Regions from separate parts of the Homo sapiens genome. Here region 1 is reported to be linked to region 2. Evidence: microRNA targets listed by miRTarBase, many of them from high-throughput screens and not tested one by one. Region 2 holds a microRNA gene; the other region holds the end of a gene's coding sequence.

Region 1 (8,288 bases), not on the chromosome of region 2:
ACTTCGAGACCTTCGGCAACAGCATCATCTGCCTGTTCGAGATCACCACGTCGGCCGGCTGGGACGGGCTCCTCAACCCCATCCTCAACAGCGGGCCCCCAGACTGTGACCCCAACCTGGAGAACCCGGGCACCAGTGTCAAGGGTGACTGCGGCAACCCCTCCATCGGCATCTGCTTCTTCTGCAGCTATATCATCATCTCCTTCCTCATCGTGGTCAACATGTACATCGCCATCATCCTGGAGAACTTCAATGTGGCCACAGAGGAGAGCAGCGAGCCCCTTGGTGAAGATGACTTTGAGATGTTCTACGAGACATGGGAGAAGTTCGACCCCGACGCCACCCAGTTCATCGCCTACAGCCGCCTCTCAGACTTCGTGGACACCCTGCAGGAACCGCTGAGGATTGCCAAGCCCAACAAGATCAAGCTCATCACACTGGACTTGCCCATGGTGCCAGGGGACAAGATCCACTGCCTGGACATCCTCTTTGCCCTGACCAAAGAGGTCCTGGGTGACTCTGGGGAAATGGACGCCCTCAAGCAGACCATGGAGGAGAAGTTCATGGCAGCCAACCCCTCCAAGGTGTCCTACGAGCCCATCACCACCACCCTCAAGAGGAAGCACGAGGAGGTGTGCGCCATCAAGATCCAGAGGGCCTACCGCCGGCACCTGCTACAGCGCTCCATGAAGCAGGCATCCTACATGTACCGCCACAGCCACGACGGCAGCGGGGATGACGCCCCTGAGAAGGAGGGGCTGCTTGCCAACACCATGAGCAAGATGTATGGCCACGAGAATGGGAACAGCAGCTCGCCAAGCCCGGAGGAGAAGGGCGAGGCAGGGGACGCCGGACCCACTATGGGGCTGATGCCCATCAGCCCCTCAGACACTGCCTGGCCTCCCGCCCCTCCCCCAGGGCAGACTGTGCGCCCAGGTGTCAAGGAGTCTCTTGTCTAGCAGGCAGCATCGGGGTGGCCCACTGAGTCTCGGCATAGTCCCCAGAGCTCCCCCGTGGTGCCTGCACACAGAGTGAGGGAGGAGGGCTTTGAATCTGGGACTGTGCCTGGCTCCCTGATGGGGGACAGGATTTGGCCACACTGGGGCTGACACCCAGGCCCGAGCGCCTGCGTTCCCAGACCATGGGAAATGGGAATTGCGCTCAGGGGCTCCATGCTGGGTCTGAGGCCCCTGCCTCCAAGATTTAACCTGCAAGTTGCTCTGACCTCCTCTGGGCCCTGTCGCCCCTCCTTTTGGCCTGGGGGAGGTCAGAACATTCGAATCTCTGCCCCTCACTTGAGGAGGAGCTGGCCTGCGGTGGAGGGATCAGTTGCCCCCCATCACCAGAGTCTTAAGGGTCACTGGCCTCTCCCCAGGAAGTGGCTCAGACCCCTCAGCCCCAGCCCAGACAAAGATGTCTTAACCTCAGGGAGTGCAGACACCTAACCCCAGGGCACTGCCAGCCCACCCCCTTTGACTCTGGGGTGCAGCTTCACCCACCAGGCCAGCTCAGGAATTCCCTGGAAAAGGGAAATGTGACTGGTTCAGAAATAGCTCCTCAAAGCCTCAAAACCTGATTGGCCACTGGATCCTGCTGCTTTGGGCTGGGATGGTGACTCCTGAAACCTCTTCCTAGGCCACGTCCAGGTCCGTAGCTCCCCTGGCTGGCTCCTAGGGGAAGAGCAGAAGGAAGGATGCCACTTGGGAATGAATTGTCCTTTTCTAGGAAGCACGGGGGAGTGAGACAGGCTGGGTCCTGCCAGCTGGATCGCTGCACATGGCCTGAGCATCCAGACCTGAGCGGGAGTCAGGGACCTGCTGCTCAGTAAGAAGATTCTCGCCCCTTCCCTCTCTCCCTGCCTCACTCCTCCGTGAGCACCACCAGGGCTCCAGGAGCCTCATCCAGCCTCAGAGATCTCCCTTCTCATCTCCCCACGCCCGTCTCTTTCTCACCTTTCCCACCTCTCTCCCCAAAGTGATCCTAAGAATGTACAGTTGAGCTCAGGTTAGATATTTCGACCCTGGGGCGTGCAGCAGGGAAGGCCCAACTGGTTCAGGCTCAACCTTCCAACTTCCTGTGGCCTGAAGAAGCACTTCTGCTGCATCGCTGTTCTGGGCATGGCAGGGCCAGGCCTCTGCTGGCTCAGGAGGAGGGGTGAGAGACCTGCTCAGGCGTCGCTGGATTTATTCACTTGTGTGTGTACCTGTGGCTGTGTGTCTGCTTGTATGCTTTTATAGGCCTGTGTGTATAGCTGTGTGTGTGTTCAAGTGCGTGACTGTATGTGTGTGTGTGAACCACTGTGTACTGGAGCCTGCATTATGCACGTGTCTGGGTATCTTTGTATATATGTGTATATATGTGTGCCCTGGACTGTTTCAAGGTCCATGGAGTACGGCTGGTGTGTCATACTGTGCAGGCCTGTCCCTGGGAGTGTTCCCGTGCCTGGGAGAGTGGACCTGTGCTGTGAGTGTGTGGATGCGTGTGAACGCATGTGGTAAGGTGTGTACTCAGGGCATTCTGTTGGCCTAAGTGCCTCTTCTTTTTCTTCTTGTTTCTCATGAAAAGTTTGATTAAAATTCAGGAAGCAGCAAAACCTTCAAAACAAGACATGTATGTGTGCTTGAGTGTGTGAACACGTGTGTGTGTGTGCACATCTACATGCCATGCCTATGGGCCAGAGTTGTCTTTATTGTCCACCATGCTCTCTCACCTGCTCCCAGTCCTGCCTGAACAGCCCTCTCTCTCACTCCCCTCTCCTCCCCTTCCTGTTTCTCGTTGTCACACCCATGGCCTCAGCCCTGCTCCCTGCCTCCTGCCTATGTCTCCTCTATGGAAGGAGGCCTCCACTCCTTCCATCTCTTCCTTCAGAAGTTTCGTCTAATGGGGGCAGTCTCCCCTTCCTGGCACATTGCCCCTCTGCCTTGCCCTCCTGGGCCCTGGGCTGGCACAGCCCCTGGAGCCTCAGAAATCTGTTTGATTGGATATTCTCCTCGGACTGTGTGCAGGTTGCAGAGGAAGAGTAGATGAGCCGGGTCCGGCCTCTCCCTGCCTGTGGCCCCTCCCCTGCAGACGGATGCCCATTCCTGCCTGGTCCAGTGGGGAACAGGTCCCACGCCAGGCCAGCAGGCGGGCTCCTTTGTACAGTTCTTACAATAAACCCTCCTTGGTGCCTCTGGTATGTGGCTTCTCCCTTCTGCATGTCAGCATGTGGATGCGGATGGGGGCTGAGGGCAGTGAGAAGCAGAAAGGGTCGGTGGGGATTGGAGCCAAACGTGGAAGACACGGGAGCCTCTCAGGGGGCCAGGCAGGATAAGGAGGCCCCAGCTCCCCGCTCTGGCCCAGTCCAGCTCTCTCCAGCCTCCTTACAAAAGCCCCTTAGCTGGAATCCAAGAGACCAGATAGGATCAGGGGTCAAGACCTGGCTCCCACAACAGGCAGCACCACACTCCCTCTCTTCCAGGTGATCCCTGTTGGGACTCTGTGTCCCCAGCTCCTCCTCCCCAGAGGCCCCTTCACTTCTCTGCCCATCTCAGAGGCCTCAAGGTGCCTGTGGGGTACACAGCACAGCCTCTCCCTCTCCTCAGAGGCGCTGACCCCAGGACTGACTTCTGACCCCAGATAGCCCAGGGTCACGTGGACCCGTGACTAAGAATATTCTTATGCGGCAAGTTTAGCCCACAGCCCCCAGAGAGTGAAATATAATCTTGTATGTAATTTTCTTTTTCTTTCTTTCTTTTTTTTTTTTTTTTTTGAGATAGGGTCTCACTCTGTCACCCAAACTGGAGTGCAATGGTGCAATCATGGCTCACTGCAGCTTCGAACTCCAGGGCTCAAACAATCCTCCCACCTGAGCCTCCCACCTGAGCCTGGGACTACAGGCACACGCCACCACACCTGGATGGTTTTTTATAGAGATGGGGTCTTGCTCTGTTGCCCAGGCTTGTCTCAACCTCCTGGCCTCAAGTGATCCTCCTGCCTCGGTCTTCCAAGTTGCTGGGATTACAGGCATGAGCCACTGCGCCCAGCCTGTAATTTTATTTTCTGTAACAACTTCTGACTCCCAGGGCTGTATTCTTCCAGACAAGTAAGCACTTAATTCTTTTCAGGATTTCTGCACCCTCTCTTCCTGGGTCCTGAGGTGATGTAGCACTGGCGTGGGGGATGGGGAGTGGCCCTCAGGCTGCCCCCCAGTGTCGTTCCATTGTCTCTGCGGCACCTTCCACCTTGCAGCTCTCTGTGCGTGAGTGCGAGGGGAGGTGTGGAGAATCTCTACAGGGTTGTCTGAGTGGTCCCAGGGTGCTGTCTTCCCTCCCTGGAGTGGGAGCTTCTTCTTACTTTTTTTTTCAAAATTTTTATGTCAATAGTTTTGGGGGTACAGGTAGTTTTTTTTTTGGTTACCTGGATAATTTCTTTAGTGGTGATTTCTGAGATTTTAGTGCACCTGACACCTGAGCAGTGTACACTATACCCAATATGTAGTCTTTTGTCCCTCACCCCTCCCTCAACGTTCCCCCACTGAGTTCCCAAAGTCCATTATATCATTCTTGTGCCTTTGCATCCTCATAGCTTAGCTCCCACTTACAAGTGAGAACATATGCTATCTGGTTTTCCATTCCTGAGTTACTTTACTTAGAATAATGGCCTACAGCTCCAACCAGGTTGCTGCAAAAAGATGCTATTTCGCTTCCTTTTTTTTTTTTTTTTTTTTGAGACGGAGTCGCACTCTGTCGCCCAGGCTGGAGTACAGTGGCGCGATCTCGGCTCACTGCAAGCTCCGTCTCTCGGGTTCACACCATTCTCCTGCCTCAGCCTCCCAAGTAGCTGGGACTACAGGCGCCTGCCACCACGCTCGGCTAATTTTTTGTATTTTTAGTAGAGACAGGGTTTCACCTGGTTAGCCAGGATGGTCTCAATCTCCTGACCTCGTGATCCGCCCACCTCAGCTTCCCAAAGTACTGGGATTACAGGTGTGAGCCACAATGCCCAGCCTATTTCACTCCTTTTTATGGCTAAGTAGTATTCCATAAAGAGGTGTATATATACCACATTTTCTTTATCCACTCATAGGTTAGTAGGCACTCAGGTTGGTTCCATATCTTTGCAATTGTGAATTGTGCTGCTATAAGCATGCGTGTGCATGTGTCTTTTAGAAAATCAAAATTATATCAAGTATCTTCTCCAACCACAGTGGAATAAAACTAGAAATCCACTCCAAAAGGAACCCTCAAAATTATACAAATATATGGAAATTAATCTGTTCTTGAGTGATTTGGGGGTTAACAATAAAATCAAGATGGAAATTTAAAAATTCTTTGAAATGAATGATAATGACACAACTTCTCAAAACCTCTGTGATACAGCAAAAGTGGTAGTAAGAGGAAAGTTCATAGCATTAAATGCCTACATCAAAAACTCTGGAAGACCACAAATGCCTCAAGGTACCAGAGAAACAAAAACAAATTAAACTCAAACCCAGCAGAAGAGAAGAAATGAGAAAAATCAGAGCAGAACCAAATGAAATTGAAACAAACAACACAAAAGATCAATTAAAACAAAAAGTTGGGCCGGGCACAGTGGCTCATGCCTGTAATCCCAGCACTTTGAGAAGCCGAGGCGGGCAGATCACGAGGACAGGAGTTTGAGACCAGCCTGGCCAAAATGGTGAAACCTCATCTCTACTAAAAATACAAAAATTAGCTGGGTGCAGTGTTGCACGCCTATAGTCCCAGCTACTTGGGAGGCTGAGGCAGGAGAATCACTTGAACCCAGGAGGCGGAGGTTGCAGTGAGCTGAGATCATGCCACTGCACTCCAGCCTGGGCAACAGAGCAAGACTCCATCTCAAAAAAAAAAAAAAGCTGGTTCTTTGAAAAGATAAAATTGATAGACCATTAGCAAGATTAACCAAGAAAAGAGAGAAGATCCAAATAAGCTCTATTAGAAATGACACTGGAGACATTCTTTTCACTTTAAGTTCCTCCAGACCTCGCCTGGAGCCCTCTCTGGCATCAGGGACAGGAAGATTTGCAGAGCGCAGGGTGCTCAAGCCCACACATCCTTTGAGCCTTGAATGGTGGAAGAAAAAAGGCCTCATATTGGGTGAGAAACAGAGACAACTTGGGACAACAGTCACAGCTACCCACCTCCCCAGGCATCCGTGCCACTCCTCGCACTCCTCGCCCTCCTCAGGGCGTGCCGTCCACCACATTCACCAAGTACCTCAGATGCAGGATGGCCTTCAATGTGCACAGCTGCCCTTCGACCAACGCACTGTTGGGGCCGGGCGCAGTGGCTCACGCCTGTAATCCCAGCACTTTGGGAGGCTGAGGCGGGTGGATCGCTTGAGCTCAGGAGTTTGAGACCAGCCTGGGCAACATAGTAAAACCTGTCTCTACAAGAAATACACAGATTAGCCAGGTGTAGTAGCATGACCTGTAGTCCCAGCTACTCGGGAGGCTGAGGTGGGTGAATCACTTGAGTCCAGGTGGCAGAGGTTGCCGTGAATGGAGATTGCACCACTGCACTCCAGCCTGGACAACAGAGCAAGATCTTGTCTCAGAAAAACCCCAGAAAACAACAACAAAAAAACGCGCTATTGGGCTTATTTCTATTTTACGAAAATGAGGAACCTTGGTCACTGAGAGGTTAAGAATGGGTGTTGCCTCATGGGTGCTGTTGGCATGTGGGGCAGGGAACTCTGCTTTGCCAGCCAATGCCCCTCCCGCCCCAGGCACCCACCGGTCATTGAGACCAGCGCGATTGCCCTGATGCATGTGCAGACGCTCCCTCCGTTGGGGCAGAGCCACCCTTAGTAGAGAACCACTGGTAACCTGGGGAGGTTTCCTGGCTGCTACACTGCTGGGTCAGGACTCAAACCCACGTCCTTCTTAGCAGGTCTTTTCCCAGTCACAGCAGCCCAGCAGATCCAGGACACCTGGGCTGGAGAAGGAGGCAGGGGTCTGAGCTCTTCTTTCCCTGAGGTTCTTCCCCCTCCCGGCATCCTAGGGTGGCTGGGGGTCGCTGCCTTCTTGCTTCCCCACCCCCTGAGCCCCTTGTCCCTTCGCCCGACCCTGGCCCCCATTCCTTATTTTGATGTTGCCTTCCTGGAAAGGGAGGTGTCGTCAGAAGTCAGAATGTGAAGCCCCGGGCAGCCGAGGGCAGAGGCAGGGGTAGGCTTGTGAGGCCTCCTGTTCTGGGAAGAAAAGGGCATCATGAGCCCAAAATGGGGCTCAGGGCTGTTGTCACCAGTGAGGGAACAGCACGGCTCAAAATGTGACAAATAACCCTGCAGGCGGTGGGGCCCCCGCTGCCTCCGCCCCTCCTGAAAACAGATCCCTGCCCGGCATGAATGGGAATGAAGCCCAAAGGCCACATCTGCATCCTTGTCCACGGGATGTGTGTGTCTTCCCTCCCTGGAGTGGGAGCTGCTTCTCACTTGTTTTTTTAAATTTTTTATTTCAATATTTTCTGGGGTACAGGTAGTTTTTTTGGTTACCTGGATAAGTTCTTTAGTGGTGATTTCTGAGATTTTAGCGCACCTGTCACCTGAGGATGGGTGCCAACTGCCCCCCACCAACCTCCGTGCCCCCTACAGTCCGCTGAGCCCTAGGACCAGCTCCAGAGTAGGCCCCACACCACAGGGTCCAGGCAACACACCTGTGTGAGCATGCACATACACACACACACACACCCCCCACAAACACGTGTGCCCCAAGCCTTTCCCAGTTATACCCCCCAACTTTGGGGAGACACTAGCCCCAAAGTTAATGAAGGACTCTGTCGTTAGGGGCTCAGGAAGAGTATTTCCTAAACCATGAGACTCCCAGATTTTGCCCCACTCCCCCCGGGTCAGTCTCTCTCCAGCCACCCTCACCAGCATGCGGGCCCATGGGCCTCAAGCTGACCTCAGGTGATGTTTATATTTCTGAGCTGTTTATTCCATGAACTGAACATCTGACAGCTTTTCAGAGAAATGTTTTTTCATTTGGAACATCTGGAAACAAGAAAGAACATCTGGGGCTGCCCGGAACGGGCTGTTCCTCGGATGAAACCTTAACCCTCCTGCCCCTGACTTCCGTGGCTCAGGTCCTGGCCTGCACCCCTTGAGAGTGGCCCCCACCTTATCAGGTCCGAGGCCTAGGCCAAGATCTAAAGAGGGACCACCCAGACCCTCTGCCTTCCAACCATGGCATGGGAGGTGGTTCTGCTTCTCCCTAAATCCAGACAGACCTGCCCCAGCACAGACTGGAAAACGGAGGGTTGTGAGGAGAGTGAGAGGTGGACAGAGGG
Region 2 (13,025 bases):
AACCTGCTGTCTAGTCCTGCACTGTTTGTTCCTTGATCTGGTGGTTGGGGCTGCACTGGTTGCATTTTGGTAGGCAGGCAGACCCCTCACAGTGTTAAAATGAAGGGGAGGAAAGGGTAACCTTTCCTAAACTACCTAAGAAGAATGCTAATCCCAACTGTTTCAGAAACCTGTAATTTTTAGTTTATGTAAAACTCAGATAGATTGAATTCCCCCTTGAACCTTTTTGTATTTCATAAGAGTTTTATTTCCTAAAACTGACAGCAGTGACAGTTGTGTTAGAATTCAGCCCTGAGTATTTATTTCTAGATTTCACAATTTGTTTTGTCTTCGTAGCAAGCAATTGCCTTCCTTCCTTTCTCTCTTCCTCTCTGTGTCTCTGTCTCTCTCCCCTTCCTTTCTTTGCAATTTCCTTCTTTTCTCAAGCTCATGATGAAAATTGACCCTTCAGTTTTATTTTCAGATGAAAGCTCAAGCAACAAGCCAGCGCTTGCCTCCATTAGTGGCTCTGGGTAGTCCTTGCAGGAGAAATCACCATCAGCAAATCATCGTCCGTTTAGAGTGGGCTGCAGAGGCTAGGCAGCTCCCTGACTTCACTGTCCAGGAGCCTCTTAGAAATGAGCAAGGAGTGGCACTGGTGCTAGTGCCATTCAGCAAGGCTTTGGAGGTGTGCTTCGCTGCATTGGGGTACCTGATGAACAGCATCTCGGTGGTTGGGTATCTTGCACCCAGGCTAGAAGGTTAACTTCCATTAAGCTTTATTCAACCCTGCATCATAGAAGTGGTGGGTAGGTGTTTGTGCATCTCTGTGTGTATATGAATGACATGGCCAGAGGCTCCACTGTTCCATCATCGAAAAGTTTCTTAAAGGGACCTTATGAAGAACCACATGGAATTTGTAACTTGATCACGAAATTTGGACCATTAAGGACCTGAAAATAGCTCTTCGGTTTTGTGGGTCACACCTTTCTCTAAGCTCAGTTAATGAGCAAATCTTTATTCTTTACAAGATTAGCCAGGTGTATTTCGTGAATGTTAACTTTAGCCTTGGCTGCTTGGCCCTGCTGCTAATGAGGCCAAAGTGGGAATTCCTGCCTCTTGTGGACCAGTTACCTTCACTCTCTTACCTGGCCACCGACCACTAACCCTCGCCAGCTGGCTTGTGAATGTCTGCAGTTGGATGTTGGAGTGTGGGGAGGTGGGTGGGGGAAGGTGTTGTATGGATTAATGCAAATCCATGACCCCTCCTGGGGAAAAGCCACACACACATACTCCATGGAACAAGGGTCAAGTGCATTGTCTCCACTTTTGAAAGGCAATAGAGTTGATTAAGGTTAACTCGAAAATACTGATGTTGGCTAGAATTTTGGACTTTTGCCAGGATATATGCAACATTTAAAGTGATTTCTGGAAACCTGTGCCCATGGTTCACTGGTAGAGGAGCTTAAGATGAATAAAACAGTGAAAACCAGGGAGAGTGTGATTACTTTTAAATATGCAGCAACAAAAGGGACATGGCAATAGCTTAAAAATCTGTTTTCTAGGAATGTAATATTTTCCAAAATCTTAAGCTGGCTTACATCATATTTGGGTTGTAGGTTCTTCAGACTTTTACTTTTGGTTCCTACCTATTGCGAAAACGATATATATAGGTTAAATTTATATTATAGCTATTTATTATGGAATTGCATATTAAATAGAAATCTTGCAGTTACTGAAAACTTTTAGGATTTTAAACAAACATTAAGGAGCATATAATGTTCTAGAAGATAAATATTTGCATAAGGCAGTTCAGTCCTTCAGCATGTGTATTTTTAAAAACAAACAAAACCCCATCAATATTTACCCTAAGTGTAATTTGCAAAGTAAAATGAGAGTAATTTTGAAATCTTGTGTAACTCTGATTCATTTATTTTCATAGGATGGATTTACATTTTGGAATGATAAATGTGCAATAAAGAGCTATTAGGAAAACCATTATTTCTCTCAGATTTGGGAAATTCTAACACTGCTTTGTTACATATCACTATTTCCCAAAGAAAAGAAAATTAGGCCCAGACAAACTGTGACTTACCCAAGGTCACTTACTCAACTAGAAAGTGGCTGAGCTTTGGTGAAAACCAGTCCTTCTCTCCCTCAGACCAGTGGTATTTCCATGACAGCATGCTGATTTTTTTCAGGGAGCATATGCGCGCATGTACATGTGTAAATAAAATGGTTATTTTTAATAAAAAAAAAATTGTTTTACCACCCATGGTCCTGGTTAAAATCGCTATTTTGCTTCCTTTTAACAGACTGCAAGCGTGGTGACTTGGAAATATCATTTTCTTTCTCATCCTTTCAAGAAGCAAATTCAGCGTATTGCTTTACAGTCTTAACATTTTTTTATGTCTCTAGATACAGAATTGACTTTGTCTTTTCTTTGCCTTCTAAGCTGTTTAGAGCAAGGTGAGATTACAATCATAAGCTGAATCTGGAAAAAAAAAGCCCTATTATCTTTCTTGACTACCCTCATTGCCTGGAAAAGAACTATTATCCAAGTTTCACTTAATCATATGGTAACTTACAACAGTTGTGATTTGTAAAATACATGACGATTTGGTCTTGTCTCCTTTGTCTCTCTTACCTCTTTGTGATCATATTCTGCTTATTTTAATGCATGACCAGCCAACTGTGTTATTTTTCAGAAAGACCACCCCACATATAAAATGGAGTGGTCTTTAAATGTCTTGGGCTTTGAAAGATTGTTTAGCCATTCCTTCCCAAGTGCTTCAGGTTTGGATTTTGGAAACGTATGTTTTTGCCATTGGTGTCACTGCAAATGTTCTCATCTTCCTTTTTTCTTTGAATTTGATCAAACTTTGTTCACTTGTAGTACTTCCACGATCAGCAGAGTCTGTCTAGTCTTTCCTGCTTTTTCCTTTTTTTTGTTCCAAATTTTCCTTTTTTTTTTTTTCCATTTCTTTACTTTCCTTTGATACATCTTTTTAAAAAGTCAAAGTGGAAATATATGTAATTGACCAATGCTATAGCAGTTTATAGATGATATAAATTATTAAAAGAAATAAATACATATTTTATAACTGGATTTATATCATAAAATATTTCTAACCTTTATAGAAGGATTTATATATTTTTATTTATATCTTTTAAGTACTTATATCTTTTTAATACTGCTACGGCATTGGTCACTTGTATGTATTCGGCTCTGATTTTCCTAAAAGACATAGTAAAGGAAAGTAATAGAAATACACACATATATGTGTGTATATGTATGTGTATACACACATATATGTGTGTATATGTGTGTATATGTGTGTATACACACATACATGTGTGTATATGTGTATATATAGTGTGTAAACACACACAGGCACAGCATATAGTAAATAAGAGAATTTCATATCTTTACAAATATATTCAAAAGAGAACCACTTCAAACACATGGGTTTTACTGAATGAAGATCACTTCTACCTTTATGTGGTGGTCTAAGGTTTCTGTCACTTTCTTTGTTAGTTGTATTTGAAAGCAGGTGAGTAAACCAGAAAGAAATGATTCAGTCTGCCTGCTCCAGGCACAGAAGTAGAGGGATATAGGCCTGCAGCTCTCAGGCTTTCTGTGGACCTGCTTCCCCACTCTGTTTTGAGGCAGAAACTGGGGGATGTCAGCTCAAGCTTTGCTTGGCCACATGTGCCTCCACGGCTAGCTGAGAGTCACGTAGATGCCACTTGTCACATACACCCTTGGATCTGAGCTGCTTGAGGGTGTTACCACACATCACAGCTTGGTGCTGGGGCTCAGCATGGCCAGGTGGCTAACCAGGGCTTGGTGTCAACTACATTTGGGATGATGACACTTGGAGGACACAGAGCCACTGTGCAGCAGGAGTCGCCACTGCTAACAGCCAGAGGTTGGTGCCCATTTTGCCCCAATCCTCCTCAGTCCCTTCTCAAGTGGAAATTTTGCAAGTCGACTTCTGCAGCGTGCGTAGTACAATTTGGCTGACAGCAGTTTCTGGCAAAAGAAATAACCAAATTATTATTCAGTCATGGTTTTTTAACAGCCGCAAAGCAAGTGGATGTTAACTAAATGATGCAATTTATTCCCTTCCCTCTTATTGCCAGCTTGCCTATTACAGAGCGACTGCCAGTTTTCAATAAGTGGTACCCAGATGGTATTCGCATGCCGCCCACTTGGTTACAGAGCCGAAGCGGGGAATAACTCGGCAGACACTACAAGCTGTGGGTCAATTGAGGGGGAATGCCTGTTGCTTCACAGTTTTGCATATGTAAATCTGTTAATGTTATGTCAGTATTGTGCGGGCTAAACACAAGCATTGCCTTTCTCTGGGGGCCCAGCTGAACTTGGACCACAGCCCAGTTATACCGAGGCTCGGAGAGCGAAGCTGCAGTTTGAGGATGCTACACCGCCTGCTCCCCTCCACTCTTGCCTCCATGCTTTTGTGTTATCTGCAGCCCAAGCTGGATGCAGGAAGTGTCTGCCATAGGCTGACTCCATAATAGGACAGGCAGGCCGGGTTTTATGAGCTGGCTGCGGAGGGAGGAGTGTGAGTATGTGTCTATTTTTAGGCCAGCCTTCAAGACAGTTCCTTTGGCCCAGCCTGCGCCTGCCTGCCTCGCTCACACTCTCCTCTGTGTGTCTGCCACACTTCTGCTCTCCATTTCATCAACTGCAGATGTGGCACACAGCCGTCTTAGAAAAGTCATGAACTGTGTCGTCTGTGCGGCTTAACAGCCAACATCTGCTGCAGCAGGCTGAAGGAAGAGGCAGGGAAATCATTTTCGGGAATGCACTCAAGTGCCTCAACTTAGCCTCTACTTTGGCCTGTGCAGACAATTATTTTACACTAATTGCATCAAGATAGCAGCTATAAAAACGAGATTTCGATCGCTCTGCTCCCCCACCCCTCTTGTGAAAGTTGCAGTTACAAAGGGGTAGTTCTTTTTTCTTTTTATTGTGGTTTGTTTCTTGTTCTCAAAAGCTTATTACATTGGGTGCAAACAACAACAAAAATGCCATAAAAAGGCAAGAATCGTAATATGCTTAAGAGCTAAAAAGACCTATGGTGTTGGTTTAACCAATGAAAATATTCCTGCAGGTATTGTAAAATTTATGTGCCATATGAAAAACATTAAGGGTGTTGTTTTTTTCACAGAGGAAAATGTTCATTGTTGAGCCATTTTGTAAATTATTTTAATGCTGCATTTCTGCTTAAACCTCATGATTTTGATATATAAGCCAGTTTAATGTTTTCTATACAGACCCTGGCTTTTCTTAAATTTTATATATTGGAAAGCCCATGTTTGTATTGGAAACTGCTGGTTTCTTTCATACTGAAAATCTGTCTCGCGCGGCGTGATGCCATGTGGCAAAGGAGTAGTTTGACCAGAGTCAAACCTCGAGTGTTGACTTTTGAGTCCTAAAAACTAGGCAAGACCGTCTGAATAAATAATCTAGAAGGTGTTTTTTTGTTTGTTTTAAAACCAGGAGTCTTTTGACAGCAATAAGAATAGCATCTCTGCAGTACAGTATGGACTTTCTAATGCATTGGTCTGTTTCAACTTTTCATCTTCTTGTAACAGAGGCAACATTGTGTTCAGTATCTGAGCCTTAACTTTTTTTTTTTAATGCTCTCGGAGTAAATTCTGGTGAAATACGCATTCCAGCATCTCGGATTCTCTTGAAAGATTTGTTTCTGTGACATTTTGCTGTATCTGTTGTGCAGCTAGAGTAGCATGCTTCTCTCCTCACATTTCAAGTCTCTAGACTTTGTTCTGAAGAGCCAGATGGAAGTATGCAGATTGTTTTTATCTTTTGTCCTTCACACTGTAACCTGATCTCCAGCATATCTAGACATCTAGCAGAAAATTTACTATGTGAAAGCAAGGAAATGATTTAGAAATATGGACCAGCCAGGAAAGAAAGGGCTCAAGATGTACTTTATCAGAGTAAATCTCTCCACCCAACTCCCATACCCTTCTTTTTTTATTTTCATTAAAAAATGCTTTTCTCTTCTAGGGTATGTCTACATATGCCCAAATATTATTCTTCTCTTTTAACAGGGACTGAGAATTATAATTGACCAGTGAGTTTGGTAAAGGTGTAAATAGGTGTGCGATGAAAGTTGATTACCTAATAATTGAAAGCTTGGAAAAAGCATGAATTGGTAGAATCCTAGACTTGGCAATGGCCTTATAAATTAGGGCAGTGCAGTTTGCTAAAAGAAGGGACTTGTCCAAAGTTACATACCACGGTTGAGACAGATTCAGGACTCAAAGCCAGCATTGCCTCAGTGGCTGCAGGAAACAATGGAATCTCAGGCTTCATGGTTTGTGGGGTTTTAATGGCAAGATATTTGTAACCTTTTTGTTAATGTTCTCCTACCTCTTTAACTTGTGGTCCTAAAAACCTTGTTTCCTTCTAATCTTTCATTGGTGTTTGGATTCACATTAGTAACTAAACATATTCACCACCATATTAGGGCACTGGATATTTGCTACACTTGTAAGTGTACACAATATGCGTGTATGTCTGTATTCATACATATTCAGCATAGTGCACACATTTGGAGTCAGGAGACCTGGGTTTAAATGCCAACGGTGGCAGTTTGGAGAAGCGAGGCCTTAGGTGAATTACCCTGACATCTCCAGGTCTCTGTTGTCCCTGCTCTAGAATCGTGATGATAATAATACTTGCCTTAAGGTTGTCCCAAGAAGTTAATGAGATTATGTACATGAGACACTTAGCATGGTGCCCCTGCAGCACATACAGTATTCTTGTCCTTAACGAAAGTTTATTATTTTAATTGATTATCTGTTACCCTTGACAACAAAGGAAAGTAGTGATAAATGCCATATTTAGCCTTGAGTTTCAACATTTTTCTCCTGTAGATTGGTTTGTGTTTCTCACCCTTCTTGTCCCCCCTTCACTCTTTCTTTTCTAGCACCTTCTGCAGCATTTCTTGTTTTACCTTTGGGTGTCATTAGACGTTGTTTACATCATTGTCTGGCGGACCAGTGCTGTTTGCAAAAAGCTCAGGTGCTTCCTCTCCTGCTTACTCTTATTCTCTTCCTTGTCTAGTGACATTGTCTTGAACTTTCTAGCTGGGAAAGACTAAAGGGGATTTGTCACCTGGCAGGGGCCCTCACCAAACTTGTGTCATGCTTGAGAATATTTTGCCTCATTATCGTCAGTAATATCTTCAATGCACACCATTAAGACCAACCTAGGGCTTGAAGAAATGAATATTTAAGGGCATATTTATTGCCTAGATTAGAAAATACAGATTTTAAGTGTTTTCTGCTACTGATAAACTTTGTTCATTCAACAGGTGTTTATTTAGATGTCTACTATGTGCTAGGTGTGCAGGATAAGCAAGACAGACACTATTTGTGCTCTCATGAAGCTTAAAAAGCCTGACATGAATCTTGACATATAGTATCTCCCTGAAATCCAGCTTTAGTTTTACCTTCGATTTCTGTTAGGCTTTGGTCCTTGTTTCTTGTACATCTACTGATTGACTTTCTACAATTCCAACTTAAAATTTATGCTAATAAAAAAGATTTCAAGCTATTGTATTTACAATAGCATCAAAAATACTTAGGAATAGATATAATAAAAGAAGTATAAAACTCATACACTGAAAACTACAAAATATTCTTGAAAGAAGTTAAAGACCTAAGTAAATGGAAAGATATCATATGTTCATAGACTGGAAGACTTATTGTTATCAAGGTGGCACTCTCCATGTTGATCTACAGATTTAATTGCAGTCCCTACCAAAATCCCAGGTATTTTTTTTTTTTTGGCAGAAATCGATAGATTGATGCTAAAAGTCATATGGAAATGCCAGGAAGCCAGAATAGCCAAAACACTTGAAAAAGAACAGAGATGACCGAGCGCGGCGGCTCACGCCTGTAATCCCAGCACTTTGGAAGGCTGAGGCAGGTGGATCACGAGGTCAGGAGATCGAGACCATCCTGGCTAACACGGTGAAACCCCATCTCTACTAACATACAAAAAAAAAAAAAAAAATTAGCTGGGCATGGTGGCAGGTGCCTGTAGTCCCAGCTACTAGGGAGGCTGAGGCAGGAGAATGGCGTGAACCCGGGAGGCGGAGCTTGCAGTGAGCCAAGATTGCGCCACTGCACCCCAGCCTGGGCGACAGAGCGAGACCCCATCTCAAACAAAAAAAAAATAAAAACAAAAAAATAAAAAATAAAAAAACCTAAAACAAAGCTACAATAATCAAGAAAGTATGGTACGAGAATAAGTATGGAGATACAGATCAATGGAATAGAATTGAGAGTCAAGAAATAAACCCTTACATTTATGGTCAGCTGATTGTCAACAAGGGTGCCAAGCCAATTCAGTGGAGAAAGAATAGTCTTCTTAACAGATGATGCTGAGAAAAACAGTATATTCACGTGCAAAAGAATGTAGTTGGACCTCTACTTTACAACATACACATCGAAGACCCGAAAGTATTAAGACCTAAATATAGAAAACTCTTAGAAGAAATTATAGGAATAAATCTTCTTCATGACCATGGATAAGGCAGTGGTTTCTTAGATGTGAAACCAAACCACACGCAACAAAGAACAAATAGATAAACTGGGACCTAGCATTTCTACTCCTGCATATGAACCCAAGAGGAATGAAATTGTCTATCTACAGAAAAGCTTGTACATAAATGTTCATAGGAGAATGATTTATAATAGCCAAAGAGTGGAGACAACTCAGATGTCTATCAACTGGTGGATCAACAAAATGTGATGAATGTTTGCAATGCAGTGTTTTTCAGCCACAAAAAGGAATGAAGTACTCCTGCTGCACCATTGATGAACTTTGCAAACATTGTGCTAACTAAAAGAAGCCAGACACCAAGGGACCGCATATTCAATTCCATTTATAAGAAAGATCCAGAACTGGCAAATCCATTAAGACACAAAGTAGATTTGTAGTTGCAGGGAGCTGGAGAGAGAGGAATGGGGAGAGACTGCTAATGGGTATAGGATCTCTTTTGGGGGTGGTGATCTTCTAACTTATATTGTGGTGATGGTTTCACAACCGTTGAATATACTAAAATCCATTCAGTTCTATTGTTTAAAAGGGTGAATTTTATGGCATGTGAATTGTATCTTAATAAAAAGATTTCACGATCTGTCTGCATTTCTTTACTTGTAGAATGAGGCACTGCTGATTGTGCTCTCTTTTGGCTAATGCAGGGGTCAGCAAATTTCTGTAAAGGGCCAGATAGTAAATCCATTAGGCTTTGCAGGCCATACAGTCTCTCAGCTCTCTTAGTTTTGCCATTGTAGTGCAAAAGCAGCCATAGACAATCTGTAAGTGACTGGGTGTGGTTGTGTTCCAATAAAACTTTATTTATGAATACCGAAATTTCAATTTCACATCGTGTTCATGTGTCACCAAATAGTATTTTCATTGTCTTCTTCAACCATATAAAAATGTAAAAATCACTCTCAGCTCATGGCCTGTAAAAAGCAGGTGGTCAGAAAGATTTGGCCTACAGGCTAGTAGTTTGCCAACCTCTGTGCTGTTGCTACAAAAAGCTTTAAATACATGTTAGCAGCTTCATTAGAGGAGGTATTATTCTTGTCCCTATTTCAAAGATGAAGCAGTTGAGAATTCCAGAGGCTGAGGCAAGTCACCCAGATATTGGCTGCCAGGGCTGGTCCTTGACTCTGTTGAGTTCCAGAACCTGTGCCAAAAAAACACCGTCTTTCTGTCTGACCCATCTGGGTCAGTCAAGGCAGCCCAGCCCCTTCTAGCTGTGCAGGTCACTGCATGCTTCTCCGACTTGGCCTCTGCGCCTGCCTGGTGCCATTCATTATCCTGCATCTTCCATTCATTCTGGAATGCACACTTCCTTCACTCCCTTCTAGTACACTTTTCCATACTGCTGAGCCAATACCCACACTGAGCTGGGGGAAAAACAAATCCACCACCTTGCCTCGCTTTCAGTCTTTCCTCGTGACTCACTCCTTCTGGGAAGGCAATGCCTCGGCCACCTTTTGACCCTAAATCCAGCTGGAACTGAGTTCGCCTTGCTGGCTGCTGGGCTCTGCCTTGATCATCTGTCTTTCGGGAGGCAGATTGGCTGTGCATCATTTCAACCGTCTGCAGTGACAAGTTTTTTAGAGCCTCTTTGTTTCATTTAGTACCCAGGCCTTGGTTAGGACCTTAAAGGAAGTTAAAACCCCAGTGGCACCTTTTATTTAGGGATCGCTGGCTCGCTTGGCCTCAGTCTTCTACTCGCCTTTCCCACGTCCACCTGACATCCTGGGACAGTTGGCAGACCTTCCCTCCATGGCTCAGGTGGGCAGGAGGCAGAGTCAGCAGGGGTGTTAAGTCACTTCTACATCTCTGCGTGGCCGTCATCGCTGCTATTCTGCACATGTGTTGCCACTGGGGAAAATGGGACACTATATAGAGGGTGTCTTCTCCCACCACACTCTGTGGGGGTGGGAGAACCCACACCAAACGATCATCATGTTGGATTTGCATCATGGCACATTGAGAATGTGTTCAGTGGGACTGTGGATACTATGGAACCTTTCCCACAGAGTCCTTTGTAATGCCTCTGCTAGGATCCAGTTCATTGCTCAAACACCCATACATTTTTGCCCTTTATATGCGAGGATTTTATTCTGAAAGCTGTGTTATCTGTGCTGCTTTTCCAAGACAGAGCAACAACTACCAAAAAAAAAAAAAAAAAAGAGACATGGTTTAGAAGTGTTTAAGTGATAAATGCAAGCTCTTTATTTATGACTCATAATGTGGTTAAGAGTCCTTCGACTTTAGTACAGTCTCCATTCCTAGTAGTTTGGACTGTGTGAAGTGCTAAAATTCCGATTCTGTGCAAAAATGATCCTGCCAGTTGCTGACTAGGGTGACTGGGGTGTGGAGGTGAAGACATAGACCCTCTGAGCATTTGGGTAGGGGATGCGTAGGGTAAGCGAATTGCATTGTTCTGCAATTCGTGGGTCACAAGTAAATTATTGAGAGTTCAGAAACTTCTTCTTTGGCCTAAAATATTTAAAAAGTACTCCTTGTAGGGTGTCTTTGGTTATAAGTAACAGAGGGAATTTTTAGGGATGATTTAGAGTGGGATCATGGAACCCATGGTGAAATTGAAAACTGGAATCCTTCAGGACATGAGGCACCTTCTCTCTGTGTCACTCTTCTTGTGTCTCGTTGTGTTTTGACTGTGCTTTATTTTGCTCTCCCTCCCTGCAGACTACCTCAAGGCAACTGTTAGTCTGCAAATGGCCTCTCAGGACTGCCCCCAAGGGTCACCCTTGATCTCTAAGGCTTTCAGAATTCTGTCATATTATTCTGTCTGAATACTTAGTGTTCTTGTTAGGAGCCTTGGTGTTGTAGGTAGCTAACAGGCAAGCCAGGGTGGAGGGCACGGGGAGGCGTTGTGTGTATTAGAAGGATCTTGGGATATCTTTAGGACTCTGGGATGCCGCCATATCTCAGAGTGGGGCAGAACCAGGAATGGGAATCACCAGGAGCCTGAACAGAGTTCTCTAATTTCTCATCCCTGTTTCTTTCTCTTCTTTTGAGACAGAGTCTCCCTCTGTCACCCAGTCTGGAGTGTAGTGGTGCGACTGCAGCTTACTGCAGCCTTCACCTCCCAGGCTCAAAGATCCTACCTCAGCCTCCCAAGTAGCTGGGACCACAGGTGCACGCCACCACGTCCAAGCTAACATTTTGTGTTTTTGTTGTTGTTGTTGTTGTTGTTGTTAGAGATGGGTTTTTGTCATATTGCTCAGGCTGGTCTCGAACTCCTGGCCTCAAGTGATCCACCTGCCTTGGCCTCCCAAAGTGCTAGGATTCCAGGCATGAGCCACTGTGCCTGGCCTCATCCCTGTTTCTCGCTGCATATCTCTGCTTTGCCACTGGCTCTCAGCAGACTCGCCCCTCTGCTTCTCAGGCCATGACCTGCTTGCCATGAATTCTGAGTGGACCTATTAAGTTCTCCTCCAGTGAAATAACATCTTACCTGAAGGTCAGGTTCTGAAGTTAGCATATGAGATGAAAATTGCTTATGGTTAAAATATCCTTTCAGAGCCTTGGAAGTCACCAGTAAGCAGGGCCAGATGCACCTGGTTTGTGGGGCATGTGGGATCAAAGACCCACTAAAGGAACACAGGATTTTCAGCTCCTTTTGCTCCCGGGCATTTGCTCATCATTTGCACTATTACTAAATGCTCTTCCCTTCCCTGCTCCTTCTCCAAGCATTGGTACATGTCTTTGTGCTAGTTAAGCTTGAGTACATTGTGATTTCACTAGATCACACTCCCAATTTCAAGTTCAGTGTGAAGAATATAGAGGTTCTGGTTGGTCTAGCCTTGGCCACGTATGTGTCCCTCATAGGTCAGCTCTGGCTTAGAGTGGCTGGTTACATTCAGGAAATGCTCATACTTTTAAATTAAATTTGCAAAAATAAGAGAGAGTCTTGGAACAAATAATGAGAATGAGACCTAGAAAAGTGACAGTTGGAATATGGTCCCTGGCTGTGGTGAGCCCTTAAATAGAGTGTTTTCCAGGGTCTGCATAGAGTCACCTGTGGACTACTGTTGAAATGCAGATTTCTCAACCCCATCCAACCCCACTCTGGCTCTGTCCCATCTTCTAGAGGTTGAGCCAAAGATCTGCATTTTCAAGTAAGCAAACCAGATGAATCTTATCCACACTAAAGTTTAATTACTGCTTATAAGAGGAAGATATTGGGCTGTTTTAACTACATTTGGAGTAAAGCTTTTTAATTCTAGTGAGAAGTGGAGTTGACCTTTGAACTGGGGGTGTCTACTCATACGTGGATTTTTTTTCGACCACATGCAGAGTGAAAACTCAGTGTTGGTGAATGGGAAACCAGTGTATAGGGAGAGCCTTAGGGTTTTTTGTTGTTGTTGTTGTTGTTGTTTTTGACAGAGTTTTTGCCTAGGCTGGAGTGCAATGGCGTGATCTCCAC

What was found. The annotated mature microRNA hsa-miR-1284 reads UCUAUACAGACCCUGGCUUUUC and lies in region 2 at 5,275-5,296, shown strand. An mRNA with a match to its seed (bases 2 to 7 or 8) in the 3' UTR can be bound and repressed. Matches are read on the target gene's strand: a 7mer-m8 pairs with bases 2 to 8, a 7mer-A1 pairs with bases 2 to 7 and ends in A, and an 8mer does both.
Region 1: miRTarBase lists SCN4A as a target of hsa-miR-1284. Seed matches in the 3' UTR shown: 7mer-m8 at 2,245-2,251.

What each region holds. Positions count from the first base shown.
Region 1 is chr17:63,933,442-63,941,729 of GRCh38, reverse strand. It overlaps SCN4A (sodium voltage-gated channel alpha subunit 4), which reads left to right. Exons shown (of 24, transcript NM_000334.4): 24 at 1-3,176. The coding sequence ends at 959. Among named protein-coding and RNA genes, the nearest start is that of CD79B, 5.3 kb to the right of the region's middle. RefSeq lists enhancers at 7,744-8,148, 7,890-8,149, 6,545-8,149.
Region 2 is chr3:71,534,310-71,547,334 of GRCh38, reverse strand. MIR1284 (microRNA 1284) reads left to right here and starts at 5,246; the gene lies at 5,246-5,365. All of the region lies in intron 2 of FOXP1 (forkhead box P1), which reads left to right.